Linked DNA regions of Homo sapiens. The protein of the gene in region 1 purifies or fractionates together with the protein of each later gene. This does not show direct contact. Each region holds a gene or a part of one and is shown in the gene's direction. Other genes may lie near its edges.

Region 1 (6,004 bases):
AAAAACATCTCTTGAAGGAATAGAATGATTTGCTAAGTTAAGAGAGTATCAGGGTCCTAACCCAATTTTACAGGTATAGCGTTGCCCCGGAAACAAAGATGGCAACTGTGACCTCCGCATGCATAGAGTCACTTCTATATATGGTCAAAGTTAGTGTCAGTCCCAGAGATTCTGGGATTGGAAGGAATGACCCTATTGCAGAGGAAGGAGACATGGATAAGGAGAGTAGACAAGATCGAAAGAGGTTTAATTAAAAACTAGATGTGATCTATTCCATACCCCTACCATAATCTGACTTCTGGAAGATCCTACTGTGATGGAGAGGGAGAACAATTCCCTTCTCAAATCTACAACCTCAATGCAAGCACATCTACTATCCTCCTAGGAACTGGGGATGCCCAGTGCTCCAGAGCTTTATGGAATACTAAGGACCTGCTCATGGAAGGGCTGGGAAGCATGAAGTAGAGGAGTAAAACTAATACTAGAAGAATGGGCATAGTGGTTCCACGACTCCTTCCACATCTCCATAGGGTAGGGCAAACCTGATCTTACAGGGTCTCTCTACCTCTCCTGAAACTGAGTGAAGGAGGCCTGGGCTACTATGCTACCATTAGTCACAAAAGGATCTCATACTGACCCAGGAATTGGGATTTGACAATTGAGTTTGCTTTAGTAGGTTTCCAGAAGAGGATTTAGTGCTGTACAACACCGCGAGGACCCAAGATTTCTGATCTGTAATCTATCATGTAAAGTAATAAGCTACTCATATGTGTTCTTGCTCATGGATCATTTTAAGCGGAAAACAATAGAACAGGCCCACATGGAGCCAGCTGTTATCTAAGAACCCTATTCTATAGATGTTGGTGGTAGCTGCACTAGCCAAAAATGTGAGAAAATCAGAGTCAGTCTCCAGACAGAACCCTCCTATCCTATTTTTCTTGTCAGTCTAACAGCAACTAAGAAATCCAACAAGCCTCCCCTCTCCCTACCCCACCCAACTCCTCACAGAGAGCTGACACCCTGCTCTGGGGAGCAGGCTCTGGTATATAGCCCCCAGATCACAGGTGTCAGATCCCCTCCTCTAATGGTCAACGTCACAGGAAAAGACCAGCCAGTTGGTTCCCAAGATGTGCTTAGATAGCTTCTATAAGTATGAACTGGAGCTTGGGAGACTAACCAAGGAACCTTCTAAAGACGAAGTCTATGATATCTCCCAGTGTATCTTGGATTACTGGAGAATGGGAAATGCATAACACAGTAGATTTCCAAGAACCCAATGACTTCAAATTTGGACTTTTTGGGCTTATGGATTCTGTAATTTACCTTACAAACAATCTTTGCACAAAGAGCAAGTGTCCAAGGCAGTCAAAAGTTCCATTAGTGTTCTCTTGAAGACAAGAGCACTTTTTCCTAACCCTCTCCTTCATGGCTCTTAACCGACTGCTCCCACCTGCTCAGTACTCCTCTCCTCCCTGAACTGATGACAGCTCACCATTTACTGCCACATAATTACAGCTCTTTGTACATCTCTCCATTCAGCAATCCTAGGATCACCTGCCAATCCCAAAATCTCCTGAACTCCTTCTCCCAGGAATGGGTGCATTTTGCTCCACCTATTCTAAAAACTCATGTTCTAAACCTCAGCTACAATTTTTGAGGTAGTGGCTAACAGCAAGTATGCTAGAGCCAGACAGAGTTAGTATCCTAACTCTGCTATTTACTAGCTATATGACCTTCCCCAAGTTAACGTCTGTCTCTTAGTTTCTTTTGTAAAATGGAAGAAAGAATTGTGCCCACCTCAAATGACTGTTGTGAGGTCAAGGCTTAGAGCAGTGCACGTACACAGGAAACCCCACAAGACTTTTAACCACTACTATGATTCAGACATTTCCCTGACTCCCCCAGCAAGAGTGAAAGTCTTCTTTCTCTGTGCTGCCATCGTATCTGGTATTGACTTGAGTTAAGGCAATTACTTTAACAACCCTTCGACAACTGTTTAGATCACTGTGTCCATTAGACTGTGAACTCCTTGAGAGCAGCAGGGTCTTGTTATTGCCACTGTATTCTCACCACATGACACAAGGCCAGGCAGAAAAGAGATTCAACTAGTTCTGCTATAATGCTAGTTTTAAAATACAAATTATTCAAAGACAATTGACATATGTATTAGGGGACTGAGAATAATGTGAATTTCGTGTTTGCTTGCATGTAACTCCACTTCCAAGAAAGTAGGTGAACCCAGAAAACTGAACCCAGCTGAACTGAGCTGAGTAAGAAAGCTCAACATGCACACATGCACACACCTCAAACATCGATCAGCTACTTCAGTTCACCACTTGCGTTATGAGCCACACCCATTCACATCTGGTATTACAACTTTCTGCCCAATTTCATTTTATTGGATTTATTTTTTAGAGACAGGGTCTTACTCTATCACCCAGGCTGGAGTGCATGGCATGATTATAGCTCACTGTAGCCTTGAACTCCTGGGATCAAGTGATCCTCCTGCCTCGGCCTCTCGAGTAGGTAGAAGTACCAGTGCACACCACTGTGGCTGGCTAATTTTTTTAATTTTTTTGTAGAGATGGGCTCTCACTGTGTTGCACGGACTGGTCTCCAACTCCTGGGCTCAAGTGATCTTCCTGTCTTGGCCTCCCAAAGTGCTGGGATTACAGGTGTGAGACACTGTGCCCAGCCCATCTTTTTTTCAAATGTGTCACTGATGAAGTTTTTGAGTGTTGTGCCCCTAACTTCATTTTTCCAATAGGCCCTGTGGTCTTTATTGTATGACTTTACATAGTGTGGTGAGTTTAAGTCTCCTTATAATAGAAAGAACTGTATTCAGTAGACTTGTGGTTGATGGTGAATAATTCTTTTTCTTCATGGATATCTAAAGCTCCTGAAACTGTAGGAGCCCCTATTAGTCAGCAAAAGCTGTTTGGACTAGCAGTCTGTCCCACACTTAAAAGCAATATATATTTATTCATAGCTAACTACATGCCAGACATTGTGGTAAGCAGTAGAGACACTGTAGCTAATAAAAAGCAATATCTGCAACTCTTTTTGTCTCGTGGGGAATTGAGAGACAAGAAATTACAACAGAGTGGGCTAGATGCTATTAAAGAATAAACCAAGGAATTTTCTCCCGGACTTCAGTGAGCCAGCAAAGACCTCCCTGAGAAAGTGTTCCTTGCCCAGATCTTTCCACCTGATAGTCTCTTTCCTGGCTTGCCCCCATCTCTGCCTCCTTACTCTACTTCCTGAGTCACCAGCCCATCAGCACTGAGCAAAGAGATACAAAACAGAGTTAATGTGGCACAGGTGGGAGGGAGAAAGGCCCTGAGGGAAGCAGGTAGAACAGCCACATAAAGAGCCCCACAGGCACTGATTAAAGCGAAGAGAAGCTGCCAACACACAGTGCTCGAGATCTTTCCCAGTCAAGCCTTCTGCTGGTGATTTCTTCCTCATTCATTTATCCATTCAACATGTATTAAGCTTCTTAGGTGGGCTGGATCCCACCTAAGTCAATCTACTTGTCCTGCCTCCTCCAATGTCAGAGATGCTTCTTCCTCAGATGGCTGCTACTCTGAGTTGAGTGCCATTTTCTCCCTCTATGTCACCTCCACTCGCTCTGGCATGCCAGGAATGAGACTCTAGTGGGACCCACTTTTGTACCGTGAAGAAGGAAAGGAAACGGAGAAGAAAAGTCCCGTTTCGTACTGCCATCTCTCTCTCTGTTGCTTCCCAGCCCCAACTTCAACTCTCCAGCTGGTGTTCAGCATCAAGTTCAGAACGTAAGCACCCTGCACCCCAAAAACCCAGCAAGTTTTCCCTTGCCACACCAAGCTCCCAGATTCACTCCAGATTCCATCTGCCTCCCACTACGGTTTCTCCCTTTCTTTATACTCTGCCTCCTCTCTTCCTGGATGGTTGGTGCTGAGAATGGGCAATTGCTCAGAGCTGGGCAAACCTTAATATCACTGTACCCACCAGGCCTATACAGCTGAAGAAGCTGAGGTCCAGAGATCTTGCCCAAGGATACACAGGCAGGGACAGGACAGCCGGAAGCCTGATTCCCCACCCTGCCCCCAGCACTGGCTTTCTCCTCATATAGAGACTGAGACTGACTCTATTTGGACCCTGAGGAAGAAAAGTATTCATCTCCACTCCACCCTCTGCTGACATCCAATTAGAAGGCTCTCTCAGGCTATCTATACCAACCACTGCAGCAGGCAGCCTCTTCCTCACTACCCCTTCCTCCCACTACAATACATATAGACTTTTAGGAGCAAAGGATTCTCCTATCTTAGCTAGAATTGCGACCTTAATTATCCATCCAAACCCCCCTAACCAAAAGTTATAAACCTGTGATCCTCCCAGCCCTGCACTACTCCTACACGTATGCCATGGATGGGTTTGTGCCACTGTGAGACCCCCAAAATCTCTCCCCTTATCTTCCCTGTCAGGAGTCATGCCCCCATGAGCCCTCAAGTTGTGCCCACCACAGAATGGCAGAAACTCTACAACTCAATTCCACCTTCCTACACCCAAACTTCTTCATACTGACTGGCTTTCCAGGGCTAGGAAGTGCCCAGACTTGGCTGACACTGGTCTTTGGGCCCATTTATCTGCTGGCCCTGCTGGGCAATGGAGCACTGCCGGCAGTGGTGTGGATAGACTCCACACTGCACCAGCCCATGTTTCTACTGTTGGCCATCCTGGCAGCCACAGACCTGGGCTTAGCCACATCTATAGCCCCAGGGTTGCTGGCTGTGCTGTGGCTTGGGCCCCGATCTGTGCCATATGCTGTGTGCCTGGTCCAGATGTTCTTTGTACATGCACTGACTGCCATGGAATCAGGTGTGCTTTTGGCCATGGCCTGTGATCGTGCTGCGGCAATAGGGCGTCCACTGCACTACCCTGTCCTGGTCACCAAAGCCTGTGTGGGTTATGCAGCCTTGGCCCTGGCACTGAAAGCTGTGGCTATTGTTGTACCTTTCCCACTGCTGGTGGCAAAGTTTGAGCACTTCCAAGCCAAGACCATAGGCCATACCTATTGTGCACACATGGCAGTGGTAGAACTGGTGGTGGGTAACACACAGGCCACCAACTTATATGGTCTGGCACTTTCACTGGCCATCTCAGGTATGGATATTCTGGGTATCACTGGCTCCTATGGACTCATTGCCCATGCTGTGCTGCAGCTACCTACCCGGGAGGCCCATGCCAAGGCCTTTGGTACATGTAGTTCTCACATCTGTGTCATTCTGGCCTTCTACATACCTGGTCTCTTCTCCTACCTCACACACCGCTTTGGTCATCACACTGTCCCAAAGCCTGTGCACATCCTTCTCTCCAACATCTACTTGCTGCTGCCACCTGCCCTCAACCCCCTCATCTATGGGGCCCGCACCAAGCAGATCAGAGACCGACTCCTGGAAACCTTCACATTCAGAAAAAGCCCGTTGTAATGTCCAGTGGTAACAATGGAGCCTAAGAGTGGAGGTGAGGGGACAATCGGAGGGGAGTCTGGGGGTGTGGATCATGTTATTTTCATCCCACTGCATATGACTGTTATCATCATTTAACAGGTACTTGCTGTGGAGTCCCTATGTGCAACACTGGCATCTGTAGACTTTGACTTAAACATGTATTCTGCTTGGGAGGAGGCAGGAGGTAGAGGTCAGGGGGCTACACTACCATGCAGGAAAAATTAGTGAAGGACCATAATAAACAAGATCTAACAACTCCCTTTCCTGCTCCCCACCTCCATTATTTCAACCTAAGTCTGCCCACGTTTCCACACAAAAGCTCCTCTATAGATCCCAAACTTGAGGGAAGTGCTTGGCACTGCCGCAGAGGGTGGCGCTGTCCCTGGAGTCAAGTGCTTGGGCACCCGTCTGAAATCACAGCCCTCTCTACTCCTGGAGCCAGATTCTGTTTTCAGACTGCCCTCAGGAAACGAGTTCTACAGGCTCATCTCCTGCCTTCCGATAAACTAAAT
Region 2 (7,041 bases), on another chromosome or scaffold:
GCACCCAGCAGAGTGGGAGGCACTGGCAGCCAGGCCTTACATCCGGAGCGGGGAGCGTCCTGGGGGCCAGGCGATGGCATGGGGAGCAGCATGAGCAGGCTCAGTCCCCATTCCTGCCACCCCCTGCCCCCCCGTCCTCCTCCTGCTCAGGTCCCCGTCCCTGCCACCTCCTCACATCCTCCTCCTGCTCAGGTCCCCGTCCCTGCCACGTCCCCCCATCCTCCTCCTGCTCAGGTCCCCGTCCCTGCCACGTCCCCACATCCTCCTCCTGCTCAGGTCCCCGTCCCTGCCACCTCCCCCCATCCTCCTCCTGCTCAGGTCCCCGTCCCTGCCACCTCCCCACATCCTCCTCCTGCTCAGGTCCTCGTCCCTGCCACCTCCTCACATCCTCCTCCTGCTCAGGTCCCCGTCCCTGCCACGTCCCCACATCCTCCTCCTGCTCAGGTCCTCGTCCCTGCCACCTCCCCCCATCCTCCTCCTGCTCAGGTCCCCGTCCCTGCCACGTCCCCACATCCTCCTCCTGCTCAGGTCCCCGTCCCTGCCACGTCCCCACATCCTCCTCCTGCTCAGGTCCCCGTCCCTGCCACGTCCCCCCATCCTCCTCCTGCTCAGGTCCCCGTCCCTGCCACCTCCCCACATCCTCCTCCTGCTCAGGTCCCCGTCCCTGCCACCTCCCCACATCCTCCTCCTGCTCAGGTCCCCGTCCCTGCCACCTCCCCACATCCTCCTCCTGCTCAGGTCCCCGTCCCTGCCACGTCCCCTCATCCTCCTCCTGCTCAGGTCCCCGTCCCTGCCACCTCCCCACATCCTCCTCCTGCTCAGGTCCCCGTCCCTGCCACCTCCCCACATCCTCCTCCTGCTCAGGTCCCCGTCCCTGCCACCTCCCCACATCCTCCTCCTGCTCAGGTCCCCGTCCCTGCCACCTCCCCACATCCTCCTCCTGCTCAGGTCCCCGTCCCTGCCACGTCCCCTCATCCTCCTCCTGCTCAGGTCCCCGTCCCTGCCACCTCCTCACATCCTCCTCCTGCTCAGGTCCCCGTCCCTGCCACCTCCCCACATCCTCCTCCTGCTCAGGTCCCCGTCCCTGCCACCTCCCCACATCCTCCTCCTGCTCAGGTCCCCGTCCCTGCCACGTCCCCCCATCCTCCTCCTGCTCAGGTCCCCGTCCCTGCTCCACTCTGTCCTCCTCCTGCTCTGGTCCCTGTTCCTGTCACCCCACCCTCCTCCTGCTCAGGTGCTCAGGTCCCCGTCCCTGCTGCCACCCCCCACTCCATCCTCCTCCTGCTCAGGTCCCCATTCCTGTCACCACCCCCACCCTCCTCCTGCTCAGGTCCCCGTTCCTGTCACCACCACCCCAACCCCCATCCTCCTCCTGCAGGCGGCTCCCCGTGCATCTCCCAGCCCTGCCTCCACAACGGCTCTTGCCAGGACAGCATCTGGGGCTACACCTGCACCTGCTCCCCCGGCTATGAGGGCAGCAACTGCGAGCTGGGTGAGGCCCCGGCCGTCCCCTTCCCCCAAGGGCCTCCCTGGGCAGGTGGGCCTCACATCCTCGGCCAGAGTCCCAATGGGCCCCTCCTGAGGTGTAGCCATGAAGGTGCCTGTGTGAACCGCGATTTGGCTCACCCCAGGGGATTCCTCTCATCCCAACCAGATTCTCCTCCAGAAACCACGCCGGGGGCTGGCTGCATTCTGAGCTGCCCCTTCCAGACAGGCCCCCATACTTTTCATAGCAGGGGCCCCTCTCCTCCCCCCACCACCTCAACCATTCACAATCTGCTCACAGGCTGGGGGGGTCACACACAGGCGTCCTCAGTGCCAGACTCCCAGTGGGAGACTGCAGACAGGGAAGACGCAAAGCACGTAAACAAATATCCTTAAATACCCGCCAAATGTCAGTGTCCATCATCGCCAACTACAGCAACAAGCGTGCTCCGCTCTCAGCACCACTGGTCAACTTGGAGCCCGTTTCTCTGGGGAAAACCTTCCTCCCAGCCGAGCCCTCTCCTCCGAAGTCCAGATTTCTGCTCCATCTGCCTCCTTGATGCCCCAGCTAATGCCTTCACAGACACCCCAAATTTACCACGTACCAAAGGGGGCTTTGACCTTCACCCACCATGTGCCCCTTTCTTAATCTTCTCCCTCTTGGTGGAAAGCCCCCATCCCAGCTGCTCAGCCACCACCGATGTCACACTAACCCCCTCCCATCCCACGTCCCCTCCTTGAAGAAGCAGCAATTTAAAGGGAATAGCCAATGCAAGCCGGCAGACAAAACAGGCGCGTGGATTAGTCCATGTGGAAAAAGGACAAATAGAAGTGTCATCACTCATGGAGTCTTTTTTTTTTTTTAATTTTTATTTTATTTTTGAGATGGAGTCTCGCTCTGTCGCCAGGCTGGAGTGCAGTGACGCGATGTCAGCTCACTGCAACCTTTTGCCTCCTGGGTTCAAGTGATTCTCCTGCCTCAGCCTCCCGAGTAACTGGGACTACAGGCACGCGCCACCACGCCTGGCTAATTTTTGTATTTTTAGTAGAGATGGGGTTTCACCATGTTGGCCAGGCTGGTCTTGATCTCCTGACCTCGTGATCCGCCCACCTCGGCCTCCCAAAGTGCTGGGATTACAGGCATGAGCCACCGCGCCCGGCCTCACTCACGGAGTCTTTGTTCTACATGCACATTCCTGAAATACGGACATGTGGGAAACACTGACACAGAGGACAACGATCTGAAGAGAATGAGAACACATGGACCAACACACCAGAACTCTTGTGTGCAAGGCTGTGATAAAATGAACATGGACCAACACACAGAACTGTGTGCAAGGCTGTGATAAAATGACTATTTCCAAGCTAGCATTTCCTTTTTTTTTTTTCCTTTTCAGCTAAAAATGAATGTCACCCAGAGCGGACTGATGGGTGTCAACACTTCTGCCTCCCAGGACAGGAATCCTACACATGCAGCTGTGCTCAGGGCTACAGGCTTGGTGAGGACCACAAACAGTGTGTGCCCCACGGTGAGTGCTCAGACCACAGCGGCCTCCAGCTTCCAATGCCAGCGACCCCGTCCACATCCTCCTTCCTTCTGTAGTACTGGGTGAAGCCCGCGGATTTGTGATAAGCAGTTGCCACGACTCAGAAGGTGGTCCGCGTCTCCACGCTGGAGCAATGGCCATGCTAGAAAGTGCAGTTTCTGTCACTAGTGCTTGCTCGGACCACTCTGAGCTAAACCATGAGTGCTGTGAGGGGTGGTTTAACTCCAGTCTGTGTGTCTGTGAATTACTGCACATTCATCAGCATTAAGGATAAGATTATAATGGTTAGTACCATAGACGGAATTATGCAACGGTTAACACCATAGACAGAGTCCGATATTCGCTGAGAAGGCGCTGATTTTTATTCTCATGTTGCTGCCGCAAATGCAGACCAGTGTGCCTGCGGGGTGCTGACCTCTGAGAAGCGTGCACCGGATCTACAGGACCTCCCGTGGCAGGTAACAGAGCGCTCTCCGCGTGCTTCAATTTATTGTTATGACTTTCACCTCACTTGTCATTTCCTAAATAGAAATGTTGACAACTAAGTGAATCAGGCATCCTGACTTTGATGGGCTACTGACTGCACTGACCAACCTCTATTCACACTTCCAACCATGTTCTAATGCCGAGTTCATAACTAATACAAAAGGACAGCATTATTTACAGCCCCCAAGACCTTTCCTCTGCAGTTCCAAACTGTTACCAATGTCATTTTCTCAGAACATAAGCATCTCAAAATCTCTGCTCTCGGCTGCTGGCCTGGCATTCTAGCTTTGTTACTTTGTTCACTAAATTTCTCTAGTTTGGCATTCATTTTTGTTCTCCTTTTCCCCTCCTTGGCTGGTTTAGAAGTTAACCATTCATTTGTTTTTGGTTTGTTTTTTTTGAGATGGAGTCTCAATCTGTCACCCAGCCTGGAGTGCAGTGGTCCAGTCCCGGCTCACTGCAACCTCTGCCTCCTGGGCACAAGCGCTTTCCCTGCCTCCACCTCCTGAGTAGCTGGGATTACAGGAATGTGCCACCACGCCCGGCTGATTTTTATATTTTTAGTAGAGACGGGGTTTCACCATGTTGGACAGGATGGTCTCGAATGCCTGACCTCAAGTGACCCACCTGCCTTGGCCTCCCAAAGTGCTGGGATTACAGGCGTGAGCCACCACGCCTGGCCTCATCATTCACTTTCTGTTTACTTAATGGTCACTCTTGACACATAAACATCCATATTTAGCACAAGTAGTCAGCTATTTCTCCCTCCTCAGGCTAATTCCCAGCACCTCATTCTGGGTCCATTTGCTGTCTGGCCAGTATTTTATTCTTTTCTTGCTTTCTGTATATCTTCACAAAATAGATATTACGATTTTTGTTATTATGGTTTTATACCACCCACACTGGCTTTGATTTACTTACCTCATTTTCCACTTTCCTTGCCTTTCAGGCCTCTAACACAATTATCTCCTGCCTGAGTATATCCTTCAGAACAGCCTTGTCCAATAGAAATGCAGTGTAAACCACATAATTTAAAATTTTCTAGTAGCCACAATAATGTAAGTAAAAGCATGTGAAATTTGGATATTTAACCCAATATGTGTCATTATTTCCCCATGTAATGAATATAAACATTATTGAGGTTATTTGCCTTTTTCCTTTACACTGAATCTTTGGAATCTGGTGTGAATTTACACTGAGGTGCAGCCCTCGTGTCCACAATGCTCCGTACCCGAGTGTGGCTGCCGTGTGGATGGCACAGCCTCAGGGGCCCCCCTTGTGAGTAATAAGCCCCTGAGGTTTCTGTGTGTGACACCCGTCAGTTTCACCCGACTCTTACAAGACAGCTGTGCCCAGCCCACTCATTCTGGCAGTTGTGTGGACTGGCAGAGAACAGGATGGAGCTCAAGGACTTGAAGCCACCCAGCTCCAAGGTGGAGAGGAAGAAACCGAAGGGAGGCAAAGCAGACGGAGTGATGGAAGGCGGGGATGGAAGCGGGAATGGTCTATCACCAGCTTTGCAAACTTCCTCTCAATCTTTTATCACTTTTCCTGCCCAAGCTTTCTAAGACAGTTCTTCCTATCGCTGTCTGCCCCATGAGTGCGCTGAGGGTCGGTACTTGGGAGGCCCAGAGTGCAGTGGTCCTCCATAGGTAGTGACAGGGTCTGGCTCTACCACCTGCAGGCTGTCTCCAGCTTCCCAGCTTACCCAAGGGAAGAGAGGGTGCGGTTCTAGTCTGCAACCGTAGCACTCATACCAGCAAGGCTAAGAGCCATATAACCAGGGAGGAGGCATTCTCTAAACACAGCTGGTGTGTTTAAGACAGAGGACACTGACTTAGGCAGGCTACATACTATTAGATTTTTTACTTCAGTATTATAAATTGTTCTGAAGTTATTTAACTGAATATATGGAATTTTCCTAAAACAAACTTTGAAAAGGAGAATAATTAAGTGACCTAGCAGGACATAGGGTTGAAGATTATCTTTAGAACTTCCTTGTTTCTTACATCCTAGGGAAGAAGTATCACTAAAAGTCTGGCAGACTGATGGCGCAAGTGCCGTCTTCTCTCGAACTTGGTTTTATCCCCTTTAAAGTGAGGATCTCACCCCTAGAGGTGCAGTGAGGATTACAGATAACGTTCTTGACTTATGGTAGGTATTCAACAAGTGGCAGCTATTATTCATAAACACATGAAGAGTTCCAGGAACGACGCCACGGTAAAGTTGGAAAAACACTTTCTCACTTGGCTCAGCATTTTGCATTAGACGGTTGAAAACTGCAACACTTAACACTTCCAGAGCCAGTACCCGTGCTATGTGGGCACATGCTTTATTTCATTTAATCTTTCAAACAACTTCTCGTTTTCTCCTTTTGTATCCCTGGTAATATTATTTGCTCTAAAATCCCCTTTGTCTGATATTGATATAGACACTTTACTTTCTAATTATTAGTGTTAGCATGACTTATCTTTTTCCAATCTTCTACTTTTAGCCTATTTGTATTTTTATAAAGTGCATGTTTAAAAAATAAATAAGGTACATGTTTTATAGGTAGTATATAATTGGCTTTCATTTTTATCCAGTGTGAAAAACCTCTGCCTTTTAATTGGGGTATTTAGGCCATTTTACATTTATTGTAATTGTCGATATGTTTACGGTTAAAGCTATCATCTTGCTATCTTTTATTTTTCTTATCTGTTCTTTTCCCCTTTTTCTGCCTTCTGTTAGATTAACTATATATTGTTATGATTCTGTTTTCTCTCCTTTGTTGGTTTATCATCTCTGGTTCTTTGTTGGCGGTTGCTTCACAGTTTGGAGAATGCATCTTTACCCTATCACAGTCCACTCCACTTTCGCCGACGCCACATCCGCTCGCTGTAGCATGAGTCCTTACAGCAATCATGCCCCATTCCTCCCCTCCTGACCTGGGTGCTGGTTTTGGCATAGGTCTTACATCTACAGATGTTATAAATGCCACTCTATACTTCCATTATTTTTGTTTAAACAGTATCCTGTAAAGAAGTTTAAAGAATAAGGAAAAAAACCTTACATATATAGTGGAATGCGGATAAATATTTAATGGGATGTCATAACCTTTTCCAGTGTTCCTTGCTGCTTTGTGTAAATCCAGGCCTCCCTCTGGTATCGTTTTCCTCCTGCCTAAAGGGCCCCTTTGATATCTGCTGTGCTGTGAGGCGTCTGGGGAAGAAGCCTTCTTGCGTTTGTCTGGAGGAGTCTTTGTTCATCTTCATCTATGAAAGGCATTGCGTCTGGCGCAGAGCCCCAGGCTGGCAGCAGTCCTCTCCTCTCTGCACTTGGGCCTGCCCCACTGCCTTCCTGTCTGCCTTGTGCCACAAGACGGCTCCCATCACCCTGCTGCTGTTCCTCACATGTCCTTACCTGTGGCACTTTTAAGATTTTAAATGCTTTTTAATTTTAACTTTCTAAGATTTCCTCTATCATGGATTTTGAATTTAATTATACTGTGTATTGTTTTCATGTTTCTTGCACATAGGGTTTG

What was found.
Region 2: the proteins of OR52W1 (region 1) and PROZ purify together in Homo sapiens (affinity purification with mass spectrometry; 2 studies listed by BioGRID and IntAct, with this or other methods). This does not show direct contact.

What each region holds. Positions count from the first base shown.
Region 1 is NC_000011.10:6,194,716-6,200,719, forward strand, and holds OR52W1 (olfactory receptor 52W1), read left to right. Parts: upstream 1-4,508; coding exon 4,509-5,471; downstream 5,472-6,004. UniProt on the Homo sapiens protein: Odorant receptor.
Region 2 is NC_000013.11:113,161,631-113,168,671, forward strand, and holds part of PROZ (vitamin K-dependent protein Z isoform 2 precursor), read left to right. Parts: intron 1-1,378; coding exon 1,379-1,492; intron 1,493-2,882; coding exon 2,883-3,014; intron 3,015-3,371; exon of another isoform or gene 3,372-3,422; coding exon 3,423-3,490; exon of another isoform or gene 3,491-3,553; intron 3,554-4,467; coding exon of another isoform or gene 4,468-4,539; exon of another isoform or gene 4,540-4,609; intron 4,610-7,041. UniProt on the Homo sapiens protein: Appears to assist hemostasis by binding thrombin and promoting its association with phospholipid vesicles. Inhibits activity of the coagulation protease factor Xa in the presence of SERPINA10, calcium and phospholipids.